Homo sapiens: one gene and its partners. The protein of the gene in region 2 interacts with the protein of the main gene of each other region in a pairwise test. Each region holds a gene or a part of one and is shown on either strand. Other genes may lie near its edges.

Region 1 (8,142 bases), on a different chromosome or scaffold from region 2:
TTTTCCTTTGCTGTATCCCAGGCATACTGTCATATTATTTGTCGACTTTAATGAGAAGTTCCCTGAATATGTATAAAATAGGCAAAGAACATAAAGTAAGCTTGTTTATGAAATTACACACTTTCTAGCAACTATAGAAAAAATACCATAGTTATACTGTTCTGGTTTTAGGAAGCATACAATTGCATTAAAAATATGATCTGTGATTTTTTTTTTTTTAATAGGTTGCTTCAATACCTTTGTAAAAGGATAGTTGTAGGTAAAGTTCAATTTCATAGCAAAAGAAATTATTTTGTTACAGATCTTTAGATAATTCAAGTATGGCTTTTGGGTAGGATCTGTGTTTCATTATACCATTTCTAGAATATCATTGGGATAGTTAATTTTCTTAAATTGTACCCTGTAATTTTCCAAACCATTTCTTCTATTAAAAGTTGAATTTGTCAACCTTTACCATTGTTAACTTAGCCACATTTGCTTACTTTGTGATGCAGAGGAAAGTGAGGAGACTTTGAAAAACACTAAAGAAATCCAAAGAAAAGCAGAAGAAAAATATGAAGTATTGGAAAATAAAATGAAAAATGCAGAAGCTGAAAGAGAGCGAGAACTGAAAGATGCTCAGAAAAAACTGGATTGTGCCAAAACAAAGGCAGATGCATCTAGCAAGAAGATGAAAGAAAAACAACAGGTAATAACTTCTTTTTGAAATTGAACCAACCTTTTAAAGTCAACATAGAGCTGAAGGTGGTAGAGCATCATTGGTTGACCTTATTCATCAGAATTGATCTCAGAATCTAAAAGGGAGCAGTGTTCTTTGGAAACAAATTATGCTTCTTACAAGTCAAAGGAGTATCCAGGATGAGCATCTCAAATCCAAAATACAAATTAGAAACTTTTTGAGTGTTGATCTGAGGCTCAAAGGAAATGTTCATTGGAGCAGATTGGATTTGGGATACTCAGTTACTCTGTATAATGCAAATATTCCAAAATCCAAAAAAAAAATCTGAAGTCTGGAAGACTTCTGGTCCTACACACTTTGGATAAGGGATATTTAATCTGTATTTTTCTCTGAAAACCCTGCAATCGAGTGTTTCATAGTTGTGAGTAGGGGATGCTAATTTTAAGGAAAGGGCAAAGTTGACGGTTGGTAAATGCTTCCTTCAAGAGTGGATGGCCTTTCTTCAGGAGTGGATTATTTGATATTCTGGATGTCATATCAGAGATTCAGCAAGTTGACATTTTTATTTGATAAGCACCTAAATGAATGTGCACTGTGAGAGCATAATGGAAGACAAAGCATGTTATATTTACAAGGTGTCATTCAGTTGTAAACTGATGATACTTTGTTATATCTTTTAGCTAATGCCAAAGCTGGAATCTGAACCTAGGTTTTTGTCTCCAAAGGCTACGTTGTTAATCACTTTTATGCGATTTCACCTAAATATATTTCCCTCGCATTTTTTTTTAGCCCACTCTAAGATTCTTGTCATTAAATAGCTGTAAAAAGTATTTTCTAATGCAGGGGTCCCCAACCCCCCAGGCCACAGACCAGTAACAGAGGAGGTGTGTGACAGGCAAATGAGGATTACTGCCTGAGTTCCACCTTGTGTCAGATCAGCTGTGGCATTAGATTCTCAGAGGAGTGCAGACCCTTTTCTGAACTGTGCATGCAAGGGATCTAGGTTGCATATTCCTTATGAGAATCTAATGCGTGATGATCTGAGATGGGGTGGTTTTATCCTGAAACCATACTCTCTCCCTGTGCCCGCCATATGGAAAAATCATCTTCCACAAATCTGGTCCTCGGTGCCAAAAAGGTTGGGGACTGCTCTTCTAATGAACTGAAGGCTATAGTGGGAAAGAAGAATATTGAGAAACTTTTTACACATTGAACAATTTTGTTTTTAAAAAAGCTTTACTTCCAGTAATTCATCTGTTACGTAGAATGTTATATTATTTTCCCTATAGGAATAAAGGATAAAGAAAATAATTTATGCAGAGTTCTTTGAACCTATAAAAATTACACATACTTTTTTTTTTGATATAGGAAAATAAACTTCCTTTTCTGGGGAAGCAGCTTAACCTGTACTTTCGGTAGCTGAGTGGTAACAAAGCTGTGGGTCTTACTTGCATGAGATTATTATTTATTTAATTGTTCTGTACATATTTGTTTTTCAGTAGTTAATAACCTATATGAATACCTGAATACTGTATTTTTTATAGGAAGTTGAAGCTATCACTCTGGAACTGGAAGAGCTCAAGAGAGAGCATACATCTTACAAACAACAGCTTGAAGCTGTAAATGAAGCTATCAAATCCTATGAAAGTCAGATTGAAGTAATGGCAGCTGAGGTGGCTAAAAATAAGGTAGGATTTATTTATCAAATTCGAGAAATTGAAAATGCGAATCTTTTTATGAAACATTAGCTTAAGATGTTTGACTTTAGTGTTCTCAGTCTTTTCACTCGTCATCATGAGAGAATGAGGCACAAATAGCTTTTACTCATCCAGAATTGCCAGTTTTGGGATCACATAGGTCAGTCAGCTTCTAGCAGTCCCTCTTCTTCCTCACTTAGTTGATTCCATCTACATTACATCTAACAAAAAACGCTCTCATTTGCAGCATGAGCGTGCAGCATGAGCATTGTACCTCCCACCCCTTTTACCAGGGATGATCCAAGTTTTCTTCTGTGTATAAATTGATTAGTCCTTTTAATGGTGATATAAAATATAGAGGGTTAGGTGATCATCTCTCTGCCTGTAATCACATTGCCCTCTTGCCCAGGGATCTGTCAGATAATTGTTTAGTAAATTAAAATTATTTACATGTTACCTCACCACATATTTTCTTTAATTTTTTTGTTTTAGGAGTCAGTAAATAAAGCTCAAGAAGAGGTGACCAAGCAAAAAGAGGTGATAACAGCCCAAGACACTGTAATTAAAGCTAAATATGCAGAAGTGGCAAAACACAAGGAGCAAAACAATGATTCTCAGCTTAAAATTAAGGAATTAGACCACAACATCAGCAAACATAAACGGGAGGCTGAAGATGGTGCTGCAAAGGTATACGTTTGTGTGCATTTTTTATACTAAATCAAATTTTTGTTACTGAGCTCTTGAAAAAATTTAGAAAACTGCTTGATAGAGAACTCTATAAATATAAATGGCAAAATTACAGCCTGGCATAAATTTGAGCTTGCAGCTTTAACTGCTTTTCAACAATGCTAATTTTCAACAAATTGCACAAATGTTTTATTTTTAGATTTAACTTTAGATATTTTTTCCCATCTACAGGATGTATTTACCAAATGTTTAGTGGTCTCCCATGGAAATAACTTTTCACCTCCAAATGTTGATAGAACTAATTACTGATGTGCTAGTAATAATGATATATATTCTCTACCTTATTTCAAATTGAATTAAAAAACTCACAGAACTATATATACAGGTAATCTAAAAAAAGGACTGAATTGGCTTCCACATGTCTTTATGAGTGTTACTGCTGTCAGTATTTGCAACTTTATAAAAAATCTGATGTTTTGCCAAGCAGCTATGTTTTTGAGGTTATCCCAGTTTCTTTCTTTCATGTGTCACAGCACCTTTACTTCAGTGCTTTAAAGATAACACGTGCTTTTGCAGAAATTCATTGCTTGGTTAAGAAGCTGCATTCACATGGTATTAATAATTCATCTAGCATGTTTTCTTATGAGTGTGTAACAGTTTGGCACCTTTTTAATGTCCAGGATATTTTTTTTTAGCATCCTAAAAATACATGAACTTTAACTTCAGAAAGATCAAGAACATACAAAACAATCTCCCTCTCTTCTGAAAGAACTGTGGAACTTGATTTAAACAACATTTTTCATGGCTACATTATAATCTACCACTTTATTACTATTGATTTCCCATTAGCTTAGTGATAGTGGACTGACTGAAATACTACCAATGGCAATGTTACTGCTAATAGTTTTTTGGTAATTGAAAATGCTAGTACTGGCGATTGCTAGGAGATTTTATTTACAAGAGTAAAAGGAGGGACTTGCAAGTGGGTCTGCTAAGAAGTCAATCAAAGATTTATACATACCTACCAGTATCAGATACTGTGCCAGGCACTGACAATGTAAGGATGAGCAACACATACAGGATGCTTTCAAAGAGTTTACAGGTCAAAAGGAAGATACACTAGAAATGATAATTGTACTTTGGGGCCTACAGGTGAGACCATATCCATGGAATTAATACAAGTCAATAAATTAACAAGGATTGGATTCTGCCAGTGAGAATGAATCATAATTCTAGTAGAAGAAAGTCTTCTTTAGGCACTATAATTTGAACTGTATAATCAGTTGTATTACATGAAAAATTATTATACAGTGCCTTTTTCAATATACTGTGCCTTTTTCAAAAGGTGGGGAGCAGGATAGAGTCAATGTTTAGGGCAGTTTCTTAGAATATATTTCTGAGAGAAAAATTATTAGGTCTCAGTCAGCATTAGGCTTCCATGATTTTTACCAAATCTATGACTTAAGTATTAAAAGAGTTTTAGCTTCTCATAAGTTGTGTTTTGAAGCAATAGATTGAATTTGGTAAATTCTGAAGGAGTTCTACCTGACTTACATTTCATTCTAATGGAGGTGCTTTGCGTATACTTCGTAAAAATTTCTCTGTGAGTTGGCTCTTCTAATGCCAAAGTAATAGGAAGATCTTTTGCTATACAGTGTCTTGTTTCTGTAGTCTGTGTTCCAGGTAAAAATATTCATCTTTATTCTTGTCAGTAATGAAACTCATTTTTAAAAATGAGTCGCCTAGGCACGGTGGCTCACGCCTGTAATCCCAGCACTTTGGGAGGCCGAGGTTGGCAGATCACCTGAGGTCGGGAGTTCCAGATCAGCCTGACCAACATGGAGAAACCCCGTCTCTACTAAAAATACAAAATTAGCTGGGCGTGGTGGTACATACCTGTGATCCCAGTTACTCAGGAGGCTGAGGCAGCAGAATCACTTGAACCTGGGAGGTGTAAGTTGCGGTCAGCCAAGATCGCGCCATTGCACTCCAGCTTGGGCAACAAGAGTGAAACTCCATCTCAAAAAAAAAAAAAAAATTAGTCATTGAAGGTTTTTTCCTCTTCAGTATTTGATTCAAAAGTATTAAATAGTTAAGAAACTGGCTTATACATATTGGTTTGTAAACATTCATAGATCTCCCATCTATTTTTATATGTGGCTAGGTATCCAAAATGTTGAAAGATTATGACTGGATTAATGCAGAGAGACACCTCTTTGGCCAACCCAATAGTGCCTATGATTTCAAAACTAACAACCCTAAAGAAGCTGGTCAGAGACTTCAGAAGTTGCAAGAAATGAAGGAGAAACTAGGAAGAAATGTCAATATGAGAGCTATGAATGTATTGACAGAAGCTGAAGAGCGAGTAAGTCAATTTCTTATGAATATCTGGCCGCATTAGAACATGACTAGCATTGACAGCTCTGTATGACCTCTGATGCAATTATTAGAGTTAACCTTTTGCAGATGTCCTTGATACTTTTCTTTCTGCTTTCCTTTTTCTCTTTTCGTCATTTTTTTCTTATTACTCTTATGCATCATTAGTTGTTTTTACATTCTATTACACCTGGAATGACTTTTTCACTGGCTTTTGTTCTTTGTCAAACATAATTCCTCACATTTCTATCATTTCATTTCTTTCACTTGCATTGAAAAGCCTTGAATAGGATATACTTCTGTCATCCTCTTGACTCTACTGTATACTGAAACTATATAAGTAATGACTAAAGCCATTATACACATAAATACTGTTTCACTGATCTGTAAATTCTGCAGCCTCTTCTCAGTTTTAATGCTCTCAATTACTCAATAATGTTATTCTTCCCTAACCTGACAAAACTTTGAGTCTGGGAAGGGAGTTTACTGTCATCTAGTGATGAACTTGGGAGGACCTATCACTAGAAAAACCCAGTGGGGGAAGCATTCCCTACTCTTAAGATAGCCATAAGAAATGGCTATCTTAGTAATTTTATATTAATGCCCCTATTAATGCCCCATACCTTCCTGAATGCTGGAAAATTCTGTTTGAATTTGCAAATCAGAGTAAAATTCATGAGAAATCTGCGACACTGATAATAGCACAGTTACTTTGAAGAAATTTTACCATAATTTTTTTTAACTGTTTTTGGCATGAATATGCACAAAGAGTCTATATTATATTAGATACCAAACAGATGAATCATGCAGGTATTGTGATCTCTCTAGAAAATGCTCCTGCTGGTTTTCATTTCTACATTAAAGCTTTGCAATATGTGATATATTTGTAGAAGGAAAACTTTGGTCTGAATTTGATCTGCATAACATGAAACTTGTTCACTTTTACTCGTTTACTTCTATTAGATGAGACCTGAGTCTAATATTTTTTTCAAAAGAATTTATCAACTCCCATCTCTTTACCAGAGGAGAAGCCTATATTGTTGATCAGCAGATGGCCTTTTTTTTTCTTGTGTTTTGTATCTATCTACATAAGCAATTACATGGATTTTCATGAAAAAATAAGATAAAAATGTAGAGAGAAGGTTAGGGGAGCGTGGCTGTAAAGAAGAGGGACAGCAAGGAAAACAGCAGGACTGACTAGAATTGTTAAAGGTGAATGTGAAGCCTCCTTGAAATGTAGGGCTTTGAGGAGAAATGAATTAGGAAGAGTTTTAGGAAGTCCCATTGCTGTTCATGGTATGATTATCCCTCTACAGCCTTGCTTGAAGGAAGACTACTCTAAAGTGGTGATATTTGAGCTGAAATTTCAGGCAACCGTTATGTCAGAGAAAGAGCATTCCAGGAAGGGAGAATAGTGCAGGGGCCATAAGACAATAGTGAGTTTATTATGTTCAAAGGAGCTGTAAAAGACCATATGGCCAGAACCTGGGGAGGAGTTTAATGCCATAAAGTCAAGGGATAAATAAGGTCCAATTCCCTTTATCCTGATGCATACAGGGCTTAAAACCTGGTTGATTGGTGCAGCAAGCCATCATGGCACATGTATACCTATGTAACAAACCTGCACATTCTGCACATGTATCCCAAAACTTAAAATTAAAAAAAAGTAAGGTCCAATTTATGTGGTTCCTATATATCATGGTGAAGGATCAAAATTTTGTTCATGTCACTGCTAAGGCTGACCTTAAGAGGAGAGCTTTCAGGGCTCCTTTTACTTAAGTTTATATGTAACACTTTTTTTTTTTTTTTTTGCCTTGGCTGCTAAGGAGATAAGGGAATATTAGTGGAGTCAAAATATTTTAAGGACTTTGTCTTATAAATTCTTAGTTCTAGTAATTTAGTTATATACATATGGATGATTTTATTCCTAATTTTGTTAAGAGTGTGTATATGAGTGTGTATATACACACACATCATACAGTATATGTATAGTATATGAGTATATATAATTCTTAGTGCATTATATCTTTTTGGTAAATAGCAATGTATGTATTGTATATAAAAATAATGAAAACTGTTTATTTCTGACCAAATTCCAGAATATAGAAGAGATTTTATATTTTCCCAGTTAACCATGTTTTTTATCTCATAGTACAATGACTTGATGAAGAAGAAGAGAATTGTAGAAAATGACAAATCCAAAATTCTTACAACTATAGAAGACCTTGACCAGAAGAAAAACCAAGCCCTAAATATTGCATGGCAAAAGGTACTTTTTATGTTTGTTTTATATGAGGTTGCAAGGATGAAAAAATATCATCAGTGGAGTTATACTCTATAAGAAATTTGAAATAGCTGATCTATGTTTGAATGAGGCACATATTCACACCTTAATTAAAACCTCTGACTTTTAAATGCATTTTTTTCTTTTTGAACTTGACTACTACCAGATCCTGGCATTCTTGTACTTCTGTAAGAATTGGATAGTAAACAAGCCAAGTTTAGTATTCTCTTTTACAGGATGCTTATTCAACAAAATCCCAATTCCATTTTGTTTTATGACAACTTTGGCAGATCTTAGGCTTCTTTACTGTTACTTCTACTTCCCTGACTTCATGTATCTGTCTCCTATAGGATAATTCCTTAGCCTCTCATGTGGAAGTTTTTCCATTTTTACTATAGCGGAAGATTCTTACTTCAGAG
Region 2 (8,227 bases):
TTGTCTCAGACTGCAGTTTTTTGAAATGTGGTAGGTTACTGTAAAATCAATACAATTTGTAGCAACAAGCATTTTGAATAGCTGGGACCCTTACCAGCAGGCTGCATGGTATGTGGTAAGGACAGGTATGCTCATAGCCACATATCCTAGGTCAGCTAATAAAGCATATTTATTACGGGAAGACATGTTTTAAAAACAAGACAGTCCCACCCTAATGAGAGCCTCCTCTGGAATCAAGCCACAACTCCTTAATTTGCATCAAGTTAGGTATTAATGAATCTAGGAGTTTTCATTCCACACCACACTATGTAAGAGCTATGCTACTGTTTTTCTTGAGATGACAGGTAGAATATTAAGAGCATCCTGCATTTAACATTCCTGGAACATTTTCATTTTGTCCCTGTTGAGGTTTTCCCAGGATGCTGGCAGTTAAAATTGTGAGCAATAGGCTGGGTACAGTAGCTCACACCTGTAATCTCGGCACTTTGGGAGGCCGAGGCAGGCGGATCACCTGAGGTCAGGAGTTCGAGATCAGGCCGGACAACATGGCGAAACCCCATCTCTACTAAAAATAGAAAAATTAGCTGGACATGGTGGCATGTGCCTGCAGTCCCAGCTACTCAGAAGGCTGAAACAGGAGAATTGCTTGAACCTGGGAGGCGTAAGTTGCAGTGAGTGGAGACTGTGTCACTGCACTCCAGCCTGGGCGACAGAGCAAGAATCCCTCTAAAAAAAAAAAAAAAATTGTGAACAATAACTGTAAGTGACAAGAGACATTAACGTCACAGTATCCACACTTAGCTTAATGAAACGGGGTGGTTAGTGTAGCTATAGCTAAAATACTAATATAGCAATGTGTGTATAATATTCAGTACAGTAAAGCATTTTCATAAGAGGCTCTCCACCTATTATCTGAAAATCCTTTCCAATATGTCAGTCATTCTAACAACTTTATCAAGTAGGTCATAATTTATTTATCTTTACACAGGGAGAGAAATCAACTTTGGCATTAGATGAGGAAGTCTATGGGAGAAGAGCAGACCAGTCGTTCCTAATTGGGAACATGCAACTCGTTCCACACACCCTATCTACCTGGCCAAGAAGGCAATTCTTTTTTTTTTTTTTTTTTTTTTTTTTTGAGACAGGGTCTTACTCTGTCACCCAGGCTAGAGTGCAGTGTTACAATCACAGCTCACTGCATCCTCAACCTTCCCGGCTCAAGCAATCTTCCCTACTCAGCCTCCTGAGTAGCTGGGATTACAGGTGCACCACCACACTCAGCTAATTTTTGTATTTTCAGTAGAGATGGAGTTTTAACCATGTTGGCCAGGCTGGTCTTGAACATCTGGGCTCAAGTGATCTGCCCGCCTTGGCCTCCCAGAGTGCTGGGATTACAGGCGTGAGCCACAGCACCCAGCCCATGTTCCTCCTCCTCTCCCATTAGGATTCCTCTGACCAACTATGCGGTAGTGACTGGACAGCCACCGTGAGCTGAGCGCCATCACTGCCCCACAAGGATAAGGCACACTCCCTGCACCTCCCTCCTGGGGCTCTGCATTTCAGTGGGACAGACAGGCCTGGGAGAATAAAGGTTTTGGCAGCCACAGCTAGAGTGGGCTGGGCTCACACTGGCTCTTGTTCCCTCTGGGTCAGAGGACGGGTACCCGCCTACTTCACGGGACGGTGGTGATGCGGCACATTGTCCCCCTCCCACCGGGCTATCCACACAGCAGGTCCTCTCCCCACACACTGTCCAGGACAGGCTGTAAGTGCTGCACCAGCTGGGAGGACATGACCAGGGCTGGCGAGGCCCTGGGATGTGGGTGGATTCGAGAGCATTTTTAGGCACTGTTTTAACACAGAGGCACACGCTCCAGGAGACCACACGTTATAAGCTAAGGTAGGAGGGCAGAACCAGTAAAGCAAAGTCTGTGCAAGAATAAGGCACCCAACCTGTTGAAAAGAGTGAGAAACAGAGCTTGAGGACCATCACCAGGTGAGGTCATGAGGCCCTGGAAGTCTGCAAGTCCAACCTGAATCCTAAATCCCAAAACACACCTCTGAGTTCCCACGTGCCCTTGGGTCCACCATGGAAATGGGTGCTGCGCCCGCTGCAGTGACGCTCCTGAGAGTTACCAGGGAGTTACCACGAGCCTTGACAGGTCCCACTCAACAGGGGATGTTTGTTGTGCAATTTCTATGTACCTTACCCAGTGCAGATCACCAGAGCCATGCTAATAAGCAAGCCAGGGTCTCCGTCACGGAGGAGCACACCATCCGCAAGTGGAAAAAGCTACAGAGACCACCAATCTCAACGTAGGGCAGGCTGTGCAGCTCTGTTACAGTCTTTCCTGCCAAGTCCCCCTACAGCCGCCTCCACTAAATCCACCCGCAGGCATTTATTAAGCACCCAAAATGTGGTATGGAGGGAAACTTTGGGGCAGAAGGGTTGTATAAAAAATATTATTTCCATTCTCCCAGGATTTAGGGAGTGCCTTCCACGTGCTACATACTTCAGGGCAAGCGAGAGGGGTTCTGCAAGGTTAGACGAGGCAGGAGTCACAGAAGCAGCTCTGCCAGCAATAATGGAAGATGCACTCTAAGGAAATACAAGGGCAGGCAGGGAAGAAGTAAGAATGCTCCTGAGGGCCCGGAGCCTCCTTGTAAGCGGCGGCCCGGAGCCGGGGGAGGGGCAGGACCTCCTCACGGAGGGCGCCGCGGAATTGGGCCTACAGGCCGGGCTCCCAGGCAGGGGCCGCACAGAACTCTCGCCCCGACCCCGGAACTGACCCCGGCCCCCGACCCGCACCCTGTGCCCGGCCCACACCCGGCCCTGAACAGGTCCCCGACCTGCACCCCGAGCCCGGCCCACACCCGGTTCACACCCGGCCCGGGCCCCGACTCCGGCCCAGCCCCGGCCCCCGACCCGCACCTGAGCCCGAGCCCGGCTCGCACCCGGCGCCACCCGGCCCGGGCCCTGACCTCGGCGCCCACCGGAATCCCGACCCGCACCTGGCCGGGCCCGGTCCCCGGCGCCCACCTCCGTGATGATGTCGTGCAGGTAGCGGAACGGGGGCTTGCTCAGCAGCTTCTCGGTCAGCGGCGGCCTCCGAATCACTTTCCCCAGCGCCTCCTGCGTCCGCCTCACCACCGCCGCGTTCATGACGGCGTCCGCCGCCCGCTGGCCGCCCGCGCCCCTCAGCCGGCCTGGCCGAGCCTAAGCCCGGGTCCCTGGCCGCCGCCGGCCCCGCCGCCGCCGCCGCCCGGTCCTGCCAGGACGCGCCGCTCCGGTTTCCATCCCACAGTGCACCGGAGCCCACCACAGCGCCTGCGCGGCCGCCGCAGGGCGTTCGGTCACTAGGGCTGCGCGGCCTTAGCAACGGACGCGCCGCGGCGCCCCGCCCCCTGCCCGCCTTCCAGCGCCCGCGCAGGCAGGAGTGGGGGTTCCGCGGGAGGGATTTGCGGGAGTGCGGCTGTGCCAGAGCAGGCGGGGCGCGGCGGGGCGGGGAAAGGGGATCTGGGATCGGGCGCCTGGCCCCTCCTCTGCCGAGCGACGGCCTCGGGAAGCCGGTGTTCGCTCGCGTTAGAGGCGACTGCCTGAGGACTGATTAAGAACAAGGTAACCTCCAAGATCTGTGCCGCCTGTTTCCCAAATCTCAAGGGCTTTCGAAGGCACTGGTTCATCGGAGGGGACGGCACTAAGTTATCCCAAAACACACGGAATAGAAAATACGCTGTCCTGGCTGGTAATTAATAAGGCTTCTTGGGCAAGTCACCTGTTTTCTCTGAGACTTCACTTCTGCTCCCACAAAGCAGGACTAGTGTGCCCGCTGCCTAACCCACCTCCCAAGAAGGTAAATGGTGACTAAATGCTGTGTCGGTGCTCTGAAACCGGGACAAAGCCATGCCTAGTTGTCCTACTAGGTGTCCGTGATTCTTTACCACCTGTCCTCTGTCCATCATGCACAGGCCTACCGCAGAAATCCTTCCGGCGATTTGAGAGCTCTGGGGTCTGTAGTTCTTCTAATGAGAACACCATTATAACCTTTTTTTTTTTTTGAGACGAAGTCTGACTCTGTCGCCCAGGCTGGAGTGCAGTGGCACGATCTTGGCTCACTGCAACCTCCACCTCCCAGGTTCAAGTGATTCTCCTGCCTCAGCCTCATGAGTAGCTGCGACTTCAGGCTCCCGACACCACACCAGCCTCGCTTTTGCATTATTAGTAGAGACGGGGTTTCACCATGTTGGCCAGGCAGGTCTGGAACTCCTGACTTCAGGCAATCCGTCCGCATCGGCCTCCCAAAGTGCTGGTATTACAGGTGTGCGCGACCGCCCCCATTATAACTTTTAAATTGACCTTCATTTTTACCATTTTCAGGCCTCCTCATTTTTTGTGGAGATCTAAATCGCCATCTGGTGTCATACCCCTCCTGTCTGAAGAACTTCCTTTAATATTTCTTCTAGCACAGTTCAGTTGGTAATGGAAAAGTTATACAGACAACCAATTTCAATGCCAGTCAGGCTGTATGGTTTATCAACAAATACTAAATTGCATTTTTATAGTTTTCCTTCCATGTCCCCCTATAACCACCTCCAGTAAATTCAGCCACAAATATTTATTAAGCATAGAAGTATAGAATTCTAGAGTTGGGAGGTCAGGAGTTCGAGACCAGCCTGACCAACATGGTGAAACCCCGTCTCTACTTAAAATACAAAATATTAGCTGGGTGCAGAGGCGGGCGCCTGTAATCCCAGCTACCAGGAAGGCTGAGGCAAGAGAATCACCTGAACCCAGGAGACAGAGCTTGCAGTGAGCCGAGGTCATGCCACTGCAATCCAGCCTGGGTGACAGAGTGAGACTCCGTCTCAAAAAAAAAAAAAAAGAATTCTAGGGGTACAGTGGCTCACGCCTGTAATCCCAGCACTTTGGGAGCCTGAGGCAGGCAGATCACTTAAGGTCAGGAGTTTGAGACCAGCCTGGCCAAAATGGTGAAAGCCTGTCTCTACTAAAAATATAAAAATTAGCTGGGCGTAGTGGTGTGTGCCTGTAACCCCAGCTACTTGGAAGGCTGAGGCACAAGAATCGCTTGAACCCGGGGGTTGGAGCTTGCAGTGAGCCAAGATGGCACCACTGCACTCCTGCCTGGGCAACAGAGCAAGACTCTGTCTTTAAAAAACAAAAACAAACAAAAAGAAAAGTGTAGCATTCTAGACTGACTGTTTTTGTTTTTCAGTACTTTAAGGATGTTACTCCATTGACTTCTGGCTTGCGTAGTTTCTGAATAAAAGTCTTCCGTAATTCTTTGTTCTTCTGTCTATTGTTTCTGGCTGCCTTCAAGATTTTATTTTTATTATTGGTTTGCCAGAAGTTTGCACATGGTATATCTAGATGTGGGGGTCTCTTCTACTTAAAATTTATATTTTATTATTTACATACAATAAAATTCACACATTTTAAGTGTGCAGGTTGATACATTTTGGTAATTATATACAATTATGTTACCACCACCACAATCAGAATACAGAACAGTCCCTGCACCCTAAAACATTTCTTGCTGCTTATTTGCAGCCCATCTCCTTCCCCACCCCAGCCCCAGGCAGCCACTAATCTGGTTTCTGTCATTATAATTTTGCCTCTTCTAGAGTTTCATATAAATGGAATCATGCAGTACACAGTCTTTTGTATTTCATTATTTCTCTTATATTTTTGAGATTCATTCATATTGTTACACGTATATTAATATGCCATTCCTTTTTGTGGCTGAATGGTATTTCATAGTGTAATTTGTTTATTCATCAGTTGATGGACATTTGGGTTGCTTTCAGTTTTTTATTTTTTATGAATAATGCTGCTGGCCAGGCATGGTGGCTCACACCTGTAATCCCAGCACTTCAGGAGGCTAAGGTGGGCAGATCACTTGAGGTCAGGGATTCAGCACCAGCCTGGCCAATGTGGTGAAACCCTGTCTCTACTAAAAATACAAAAATTAGCCAGTCGTGGTGGGGTGCATCTGTAATTCCAGCTACTCAGGAGGCTGAGGCACAAGAAATGTTTGAATCTGGGAGGCGGAGGTTGCAGTGAGCTGAGATCGTGTTACTGAACTCCAGCTTGGGTGACAGAGTGAGACTCTGTCTCAAAAAAAAAAAAAATGCTGCTATAACCATTCACTTACAAGTCTTTGTGAAAGTTTTCATTTCTCTTGTATTGGAATTGTTGGGTTGTATGGTAAGAATATGTTTAACTCTACAAATACTACCATGCTGTTTTTAAAGTGGCTGCATCATCATTCATTCCCACCAGCAATATATTGAATCCCAAGTTACTCCATATCCCTGCCAACATCTGGTATTGTCAGTCTTTTTGTTTTTCTTCTTCTTTTTGTTTTTGGGTTTTTTTTTTTTTTTTTTTTTTTTGAGATGGAGTGTTGCTCTGTTGCCCAGGCTGGAGTGCAATGGCATGCTCTCAGCTTACTGCAACCTCTGTTTCCTGGGTTCAAGTGATTCTCCTGCTTCAGTCTCCTGAGTAACTGGGATTACAGGCACCCGCCACCATACCCAGCTAATTTTTGTATTGTCAGTAGAGATGGGGTTTCACCATGTTGGCCAGACTGGTCTCGAACTCCTGACCTCAGGTGATCTGCCCGCCTTGGCCTCCCAAAGTGCTGGGATTACAGGTGTGAGCCACTGTGCCCAGCCTGTCAGTCTTCCCACCTGCACCCCCCCGCCACCCCGCAGACAGAGTCTTGCTCTGTCGCCCAGGCTGGAGTGCAGTGGCACTGTCTTGGCTCACTGCAAGCTCCGCCTCCCGTGTTCATGCCATTCTCCTGCCTCAGCCTCCTGAGTAGCTGGGACTACAGGTGCCTGCCACCACGCCCAGATATTTTTTGTATTTTTTAGTAGAGACAGGGTTTCACCATGTCGGCCAGGATGGTCTCAATCTCCTGACCTCAAGATCTACCCACCTCAGCCTCCCAAAGTGCTGGGATTACAGGCGTGAGCCACCGCACCCGGCCCCTGTCAGTCTTTTTTAACGTTCATCTTTCTACGGGTGTGGAATGGTGTCTTGTTATGGTTCCTATTTACATTTCTGTAGTGATTAGTGATTTTGAGCATATTTCCCTGCCCTTGCTAAATATTCATATATCTCTAGTGAAGATACCACATCAAGTATCATTCAAGCATTTACTGAATCACTGCTATGTATGGATTACTGTCTGAGTGCTGGGGATTTAATGGGGAGTTAAGACCTTCTAGAAGGCAGCGTCCATGCTGTCCACTGGTCCTAGGAACATCACTCCTCATGCTGCTAACTATATCCAGGACCAAGTGAGCTTTGGTCACCTAGACAGAGGCCAGATGAAAGGGGCCAGGGCTCATCTCCTTCTAACTGTTGGCCTTGCTTCCTCCTACACTGCACCTTGCAGGTGGGCTGGCTGTGTGAGACTCGGCCGAGAGGCTGGGAGACACCTAAGAGAGAGACAGCCCATGATAGAGGGAATTTAACGACACTCACCATATAGAACCATCCCATGCTCCGTGGGGAAAACAAGCCCCCAAAGAGTTGCACCCTCAGAGGGATTCCATCTTGGCTGCTCTCCGTTTATAACCCTACTCCTTGGCCAGAGCACCACCAGCCTCTGACTCCTGCCTCATGAAATCTTCCTGACTCTGGAAACTCCACTCCCAACCCACAGAAGCTTTTGTGATCTTCCATCCATCCCCTTTCTCTCAGCACTACACTTCCCAGAGTATATGGTCTCCAGTCCAGACTCACACCATCCCAAGGACCTCTGCAGGACAGTCCACTGTGACATTTGGCACTGCAGTCCCTTGGAACAGTCCAGGATGACGGTGGACACTGAATCACTGAATCACGCTCCTTCTAGGGCTCCCAAATTCCCATTCTTCTCCTGATTGTCCACACGTGTCCTTATCACACACGTACCTCCTTCCCAAGAACAAGCATTAATTAAACAGTTCATCAAACCCCATAAAGAAAAATAAATAGTTTCCATACTGCCCTGTCATTTGCCAACATCCCCCACCCAGTGAAACTAACACTTCCCATGAACATGGAGAATGCTGTTAGCTCCCTTCATTCCTGCATTTCACCTTTCCTGCCCACCACCCAACCTCTCCTCAGGCCTCCCTGAAAGTTTTTATAGGGGAGGAGCATGGTGAGACTGTACTTCTTCGTGGCTGGGCCCTCATTTCGCAGAGGCTGGCC
Region 3 (8,142 bases), on a different chromosome or scaffold from region 2:
TTAACACAGAAGGATATTTGTGTTAAAAGACAGAAGCAGCAGGTAAAATGTGATCCCAGTTTTGGGAAAAAGAATCTGTATGTAAGTGTATTTATATACACACATAGTAAAACTAGTTTAAGAAGAATATACTTTAAGGTGCTGGTGAATTATTGAGTGTGCTTTTTCTTATTTGTAGTGTTTAGCTTTTCTTCGTGAAAATGAATTGTTTTTGTTCATTAACAAAGAGGTTTTTAGTAATAATAAGCTAGTCACAAACTAAGATATAAGAGCTCTGTTTCTATAGCTTAATGCTTCTGGTGAGACAGGGCATCTGGATCAAATAAAATCACTTTGTGTACGAAAGGTTTAAAATAATCCTTTTGGATTATATGTATATTCACTATGTTGGCCAGGCTGGTCTCCAACTCCGGACCTCTGGTGATCCGCCAGCCCCGGCCTCCCAAAATGCTGGGATTACAGGTGTGAGCCACTGCGCCTGGCCATTCGTGGTCTACTTTTGATAATTATTTTGTAACCTTTCTTTCTGCCTGCCATATATTTTTCTCCTTGCTTGTGAATTGTTGTGATCTTAGAAACAAAAAATGTGGCCTGGTATGGTGGCCTTACGCCTGTAATCCCAGCACTTTGAATCGCTTGAACTCAGTAGTTCAAGACCAGCCTGGCCAAGATGGCAAAATCCCATTTCTGGCCTGGCACCGTGGCTCATGCCTGTAATCCCAGCACTTTGGGAGGCCAAGGCGGGCGGATCACCTGAGGTCTACTAAAAATACAAAAATTAGTGGGGCGTGGTGGCGCACACCTGTAATCCTGGCTACTCCAGAGGCTGAGGCAGGAGAATTGCTTGACCCTGGGAGGCAGAGGTTGCAATGAACTGAGATCGTGCCACTGCACTCCAGCCTGGGAGACAGAGCGAGACTCCGTCTCAAAAAAAAAAAAAAAAATATGTTTTAACAACAAATACCTATTTTGGATTTTTAAACTCCTTAAAGAACTAAGTCAATAAAAGAAACATCAAGAAGTAATACAGACATTGTAATTTCTTGGGATATATGTAGTACATGAATACAAATATTTTAAAACATTTTTAGCCTTTTCAAGTACTTCTAAAACTTAAAAATTATAGAAGTATAGATACAAAAGGATGAATACATGACTCCACTTAATTGAGGTACCTAGAGTAGTCAAATTCTTAGAGACAAAATAGAATGGTTGTTGCCAAAGGCTGGAGAGAGGAGAGAATGGGGAGTTACTGTGTAGTGGGTACAGAGTTTTAGTTTGGAAAGATGAAAACGTACTGGTGATGGATGGTGGTGATTCCACAACAGTGTGAATGTAGTTCATGCCACTGAATTGTACAGCTACAAATGTTTAAAATGGTAAATTTTATGTTATGTATATTTTTAAAAAATCAACATATACGCCCCTCCTTATGCCTGCAGAATCATCCCTTATTTTTTTCCCTCAGCTCAGAGATGGCAGCTGACCTCACTCTTTTAGAGTGAGACCCCAAAATAATAGTTTATGTGATATAAATTTAAAAAATAAAAACAAAAAAACCAGCAAACAGTTCCACAGATAACAGGGAAAAGAGTCCTTTCTGAAGGGACATAGCCTTATTGTAAATCCAAGTTTACTAAATAGTTTCAGTCTTGAAATTGGGGAAAGCATGAGTCCCAGAGAAAACATTTAGATCAGAAGGTAGTTTATTAAGAACATGATGAAAGGCTTTAATAAGTTTGGTACCTAAAATATAAAGGTTTATTTGAAGAATTAACCCCAAGTTACTTTGACTGCTCTTTTAGAACTGGGATGTCAAATTGATTTGGCAGTGACTTACAACAGTGCTGTGATGAGGATTCAATGGCTGTGTCTCTGCTGTGACTAATCCATAGGTGTTGTAGGGAGAGTGAAATGAACCAGATGTTAGTTATGAACAGTGAATGCCTAGGTCCTCTGCTGGATGTTGCATTTGCTTTGAAGGGTCTATGTAGTCCCTACACAATGGAGTTGAGAGACAAGTACTTTCAGTGTAATAGTGATATATACAGGGTGTTGTAGTTGTGCAAAATAAGGCATTTCTGGAGAAGATCAGGGTGACATCTGAGTAGAGCCTTGATGGATAATGAAAAGTCATGGTATAGGGACAAGGGATTCAAGGCTTATTCCTAAGGATGACTGGATTAGTTTTCTAATATTGCATAACAAGTTACCACAACCTTAGTGCCTAATAACCCAGTTATTATTTTATAGTTCTGTAGGTCAGAAGTCTGGCATGGCATGACTGGGTTCTCTGCTCAGGGTCTTGCAAGGCTAAAATCAATATGTTGTCCAAGCTGCTTTCTCATCTGGAGCTCAGGATCTTTTTGTATGCCCATGTGGTTGTGGTAGAATTCAGTCCTTTCTGGTTATAGGACTGGGGCCTTCATTTCTTGCTGACCACTTTCGGCTTAGAGGCTACCAGCAGCTCCTTGCCACGTGCCCCTGTAGGCATTTTGCTTTCTTTCAGGACAGCAGAAGTACGTCCCTCTGCCCTCTAGACCCATATTTGAAGGGCTTATGTAATTAGTTTAGACCCATCCAGGTAATCTTTTGATGAACTCATGGTCAACTGATTAGTAACCTAGTAACCTTAAATATGCCTTTAAAATCCCTTTGCCCTGTAATATAACAATTATGAGAGTGATAGCTCATTATATTCACAGGGCAGGGGTCATTTGGGGTCATCTTACAGTTTTGCTTATCACAATGACTAAAATGGTTTTTCTTAAGTTTTTGTAGAGTCAGGGTCTTACTGTGTTACTCAGGCAGTCTTGAACTCCTGGCCTCAAGTGATCGTCTTGCCTTGGCCTCTCAAAGTGTTGGGATTACAGGCATGAGCCACTGTGCACAGCTAAAATGGTTTTTCTTACACTGAAATTGAGTATAACTGTGGTCAGTTAATAATTAGGCAGTGGGCAATAAAATATTAATTGTGGGTCTGGATGTAGCTGTCAGGTTTTTTGGTTAACAGCTTAGAAAGCTGACTCAGATTTCTTATGGCTATTGCAATTAATCAGCTCAAGTTTGGTTTGAAGGAACCTAAATCCCTTTATATCTTGAAGTGAGGATAGCCCATTAAGGAACCAGGCACCTGGGACAAATGCTGAAGTACAGTTAGTTCTTTATGCACTGTTATATACTTTATACTCACATCCATTTTCTCATATAATTCTTACTCTTGTAACTCCAGAGGAAGATCCAGAGGAAGATCAACAAGTCATCAGGCCACGTTTTGCCAGATAGTACTACTTTTCTAGGGAGAGTATGTTTTAGAATCTGTTAAACTTTGTAAACCCCGTTATTTGATTTTTTTGTCAGTTTCTCCAGAGCTGATGAGGCTCTCAGTTACTGATTAGACCATATGAGGCCAAGGTGTAAGACGTAATGCCAATTTTTCAGATTTGCAGTGAGGTATACTTTTTAAGCAGTTGGAAGGTCACTGTCTAAGGTAGCCCTTTCCTGGCATCTGGATATTTGGAAAGCTGAATTAATAACCCAGAGATTTCTTAGACATGATAGAATCACAACAGAGAGAGTTGATTAGTCAAGAGGTATTTCCTGTGGTCTAGTAGTACTTTTCTAACTTTTTACCACCCAGTGACCATTTTATTAAAGGAGTTCTTAGATATAATCATTTATAAATACATAGATACAAAAGGCTGCCCCCATAGTGGCAGCCTTTGAGGCACCTACAGCCTTTGAAGCTGGCACTGGCATGGTTTGCAAATTATGGCTCTAGGTGTGGGAAGGGTTTATTGAATTTATCTCAACTTTAATGAAAGCTATTTCTGATGTTCTTTGAACATTTGTAATTTGAACGTGGTGTTCAAGGTAGGCTCAAACTTATTCCAAGACTGAGACTAATACTACACAGTGACTGTGCTTTCCCTTGCCATTTTCTAAGTACAATGTTGACTTTTAGTCACATATTTTCTAGACATTTAAACCATTGCTAAGGCTTCAACTTTATTTCACATTGATTGATTTTCTTGTTTATATGCTTTTTTTTTTGAGACGGAGTCTTGCTCTGTCACCCAGGCTGGAGTGTAGTGGTGCAATCTTGGCTCACTGCAACCTCTGCAGTTGAAGCAATTCTCCTGCCTCAGCCTCCTGAGTACCTGGGATTACAGGCGCACAACACTACTCTTGTTCATGTTTTTAAGTCCTTATTCTTCCTGTTTTGTCTTTGGTGGGAGAGGATATGTCATCCCTTAAGGTGACTTCTGCACATAGCTAATTTCATCTGTTGTATTGATTTTTCTGGTTCATCTTTTAGAAGGTGTTGGAGTTCTTGGTTGTAAGCAACAAAAAGTCAATCTAGGTAAGCAGAAAAATAATTTATTGAAGACTCTTTACCCTACAGAATTTCCCTGAGGTCCCAAAAGTCTGAGCTGATTGCTACGTCCAGTTATACTGGGGAGACTACTCTGTGTTGCAGCTGCTTCAGCTTGGCACCAGCATTGCATCTGTCACTTCACAGCTTATATTTGTGTGGATGCATGAAGTTCTGTCTCCATTGTCATCAGATGATGAACTTTATTTGTATGTCTGTTTTTTCACATCACTCACTTATGACTCGAAGTCTCATGTGTTTCATTGATGGAGCTCAGGTTACCCTGTCTCAGATAAAAAGAAGATTGGGTTAGTAAGTTTTCTGAGTTCTAACTTACGGACTTATAAGAGCTGTTTATAGAAAAAAGGTTATTAAACTTTTGTCATATTTGTAGATGCTTTTCCTCACCTCCCAATTAAACTGCTGCTTTGATTTGTTTTTCACATAAAAATCTCTTTCCCATTCAGAGATTGTAGAAATAGACTCTTGAATTTTTTGTATTTCAATAAAAAAAATTAAATCTTTAATATAGCTTAAGTATGAAGGATCTGATTTGTGTGTCTTGCCCCATATGGATGGCCAGTTGTCCCAACATTTATTGAATGTCTATCCTGATGCAAAATGTTACTTTTATCATAAGCTAAATATGTATATGTCTGTCTGGATGTATATATGTGTATATAGAGTATGTGTATATTTGTATACTATTCCTCACGACCTCTCAGTTCCACCCTAACCACAGCAGTTTGTGCACGGATACCACAGACCAGAGTTCCATTTGTTTATTCATTCATTCATTTATTTGACAAATATTTATTAACTGCCTTTTGTAAAGTGCAGACTACAAAAAGAGGTAAGATATCATGACTCATTCATTTCTCAAAATAGATCTGAGTTCAGATCTATTTTGCTGTGGGTGTAGGGGGATTTCAAAATTTTGGTTTTATACTTTTAGGGTTGTTTTTAGCTCACCTTAGAGTAGACCCCAGACCTCTAGTTTAAATTTTGAGCCCTTTCTCCTGAGTTTTTTTGCGCTGAGGGTTATAGGAGTCAGGCTGTCAATTACAGAGCTAAATGGAATAGCATCTCAGTATTTAGCAGTGGTATTCAAGGTAGGCTCAAAGCAAGGCCATTAATTAGGTGGGCAAGTGCTGTTTATCTGTGCATTTCATACTATTGAATGTTAGAGCTAGAAGGTAGAAGGGATCTTAAAGATTGAATTGCCAGCCTTTTTTTTTTAAATGAACTTCTAATTTTGGAATAATTTTGGTTTATAGAAAAGTTCTAAAGATAGTGCAGAGAGTTTTTATATACCCCTCACCTGGCTTCAGTTTTCTCTAATATTATCATCTTACACTAGTATCGCAACTTTATTTTATATATGGAGACACATAGTCCTCAAAAAGTTCATGTAGCTAAGATCATAGTTCTAGTTGGTGGCAGAGTTAGGCCAGGGACCTAGTAGGTAGCCTGGGTTTTCTAGTTGATTATATTTGTTATCCTTTTCTGCTTTTCGTGTTTTTGCTCTTTTCCTTTCTTTCACTGAATTCTTTGGGCATGGACTGAGAGAAGGACTACCTAGTTCATAGTTCACTAGTCAATATAGTCTTGCTAATTTGTGCAATAATTTTTAAATCTAGGCGTCCTCCAATTCTTCAACACCAACAAGAATGAGGAGCAGGACATCTTCATTTACAGAGCAACTTGATGAAGGTACACCCAATAGAGAGGTAAGTTTGGAATTCCTTTTCTAGTATACCTCTCAAAAGAAACTAATCTAAAATGTATGCTGTTGATAACAAAATGGGAAACTTTTGACAGGTCAGCTATTTAATTCCTAGGTAGAGTTTTTATTAGTAACACAATTGGTCTTTTTTTTTTTTTTTTCACAAATAGCAGTTATGATTTATGTCTGTCTGTCTGTCTGTATGTATGTATGTATGTTTTTGAGACAGGGTCTGGTTCTGTCACCCAGGCTAGAGTGTGGTGGCACGATCACTGCACATTGCAGCCTTGACCTTCTGGATTCAAGTGATCCTCTAACTTCAGCCTCCTGAGTAGCTGGGACTATAGGCGCACGCCACCTGCCTGGCTAACGTTTAAATTTTTCGTAGACGGGGTCCCACTATGTTGCTCAGGCTGGTCTTGAACTCCTGGGCTCAAGTGATTCTCCCAATTATGCTTTATAAAGTATGGTTGTTGAGAACCTTAATTTGAGAGGATAATATGTTCTGGATTTAATAGTTGAAGTTTTCAGAATAATTTGATAAATTTGTTCAACATAGCATCATTTTTTCAAGCTGGTGAGTGGAAACTGAGAAGTAACTTATTTAACTTATTCCATGTAACCAGCAGCTGGCATTAAAACTCATTATTTCCCACTTTTTTTCTGTGAAGTGTAACACACATACAAAAAGAAGGTAAAACATAAATGCACGGGTCAGCAAATTATCATGAAGTGAATCCTCCCAGGTCAAGCAAAGGAACACTGTTAGCACTGTCGTGCTCCCTTTCCCCCTGAAGGATTACCACCATCCTGAATTTTTGGTATTTGCTTGCTTCCTTTTTTTTTTTTTTTTTAATAGTTTTACCTCTTAAATATGCTTTCTAAATGTAAACATTGTAGTTAAACATTTGGGTTGTCTACAGGTTTTGGCTACTATGAATTATGTTGCCATCAACATTATTGTACTTTTTTTTGGTGTACATGTACCTGCATTTCTGTTGGTATGTACTTTGGAGTAGAATCACTGCTCCATTTTAACACATAAGAAGATAATGCTGATGGTTTTCCAGAGTGGTTGTAGAAATTTAAATTCTCACCAGGAGCTTATGAAAGTTGCTTTTGCCCTATATTTTTGAGAGTCTTTATTTTTCTACTCTGTGTAAATATGCTGGAAAACAGTCTTTTTCATTTCAGCTGTTCTGGTGGTGGTCTTTCATTTTGGTTTTAATTTACATTCTCTGATAACTAACGAGATTGAGCATTTACATCTGTTTATTGCCCATTTGATGTCTTTTGTGAGTGCTTAAGTCCCTTGCCCATTTTCTATTGGATTATCTTTTTTTAAAACTGATTTGTAGGAGTTTTTTAAAAAATATAGAATACTAAGGAGTTTTTTGTTGAATATATATCTTGCAGCTATCTTCCACTCAGTGGCTTGCCATTCATTTTAATGATGTCCTTTGATGAACAGAAGTTCTTAGTTTTAGGCCAAGTATGGTGGCTCATGCCTGTAATCCCAGCGCTTTGGAAGGCCAAGGCAGGAGGATTGCTTGAGTCCAGGAGTTTGAGACCAGCCTGGGCAACAGAGTGAGACCCTGTTTCTGCAAAAATAAAATAAAATAAAATTAGCTAGGTATGGTGGCATGCACCTGTGTGGTCCCAGCTACTCAGGAGGCTAAGGCAGGGGCATTACTTGAGCCTCGGAGGTCGAAGCTGCAGTGAACCATGATTGCACCAGCCTAGGTGACACAGTAAGACCCTGTCTTTCAAAAAAAAAAAAAAGCCTGGTTCCCATCCATTTCCCATCCCTGACAGTACCTTCTATCTTAGAAGTTTAACAAAATGAGAAACCGCATAGGGTACAGGGAAATGATGAAAAAATTAATTTAATGTCCTTTTAACCAAAAACTTAATTATATAATTGAAAAATCCTTTATTTATTATAAAATAAGTTGAAGTAAGGTTTAGATTGCACTCTGTGGTCAAAGTACCTGTTAAAGTTGTCAAAAAAGCTTAAAAAGCAAGGAGATGAAGTGATGAC

Evidence for each region. The genes of interacting proteins can lie anywhere in the genome.
Region 1: the proteins of TRAF3IP1 (region 2) and SMC2 interact in a two-hybrid assay, tested with the Homo sapiens proteins (2 studies listed by BioGRID and IntAct).
Region 3: the proteins of TRAF3IP1 (region 2) and GOLGA4 interact in a two-hybrid assay, tested with the Homo sapiens proteins (2 studies listed by BioGRID and IntAct).

What each region holds. Positions count from the first base shown.
Region 1 is NC_000009.12:104,124,418-104,132,559, forward strand, and holds part of SMC2 (structural maintenance of chromosomes protein 2), read left to right. Parts: intron 1-494; coding exon 495-688; intron 689-2,223; coding exon 2,224-2,367; intron 2,368-2,868; coding exon 2,869-3,063; intron 3,064-5,227; coding exon 5,228-5,428; intron 5,429-7,591; coding exon 7,592-7,708; intron 7,709-8,142. UniProt on the Homo sapiens protein: Central component of the condensin complex, a complex required for conversion of interphase chromatin into mitotic-like condense chromosomes.
Region 2 is NC_000002.12:238,315,599-238,323,825, reverse strand, and holds the start of TRAF3IP1 (TRAF3-interacting protein 1), read right to left. Parts: upstream 3,309-8,227; 5' UTR 3,164-3,308; coding exon 3,041-3,163; intron 1-3,040.
Region 3 is NC_000003.12:37,245,380-37,253,521, forward strand, and holds part of GOLGA4 (golgin subfamily A member 4), read left to right. Parts: exon of another isoform or gene 1-42; intron 43-4,318; exon of another isoform or gene 4,319-4,363; intron 4,364-6,015; coding exon 6,016-6,105; intron 6,106-8,142. UniProt on the Homo sapiens protein: Involved in vesicular trafficking at the Golgi apparatus level. May play a role in delivery of transport vesicles containing GPI-linked proteins from the trans-Golgi network through its interaction with MACF1. Involved in endosome-to-Golgi trafficking.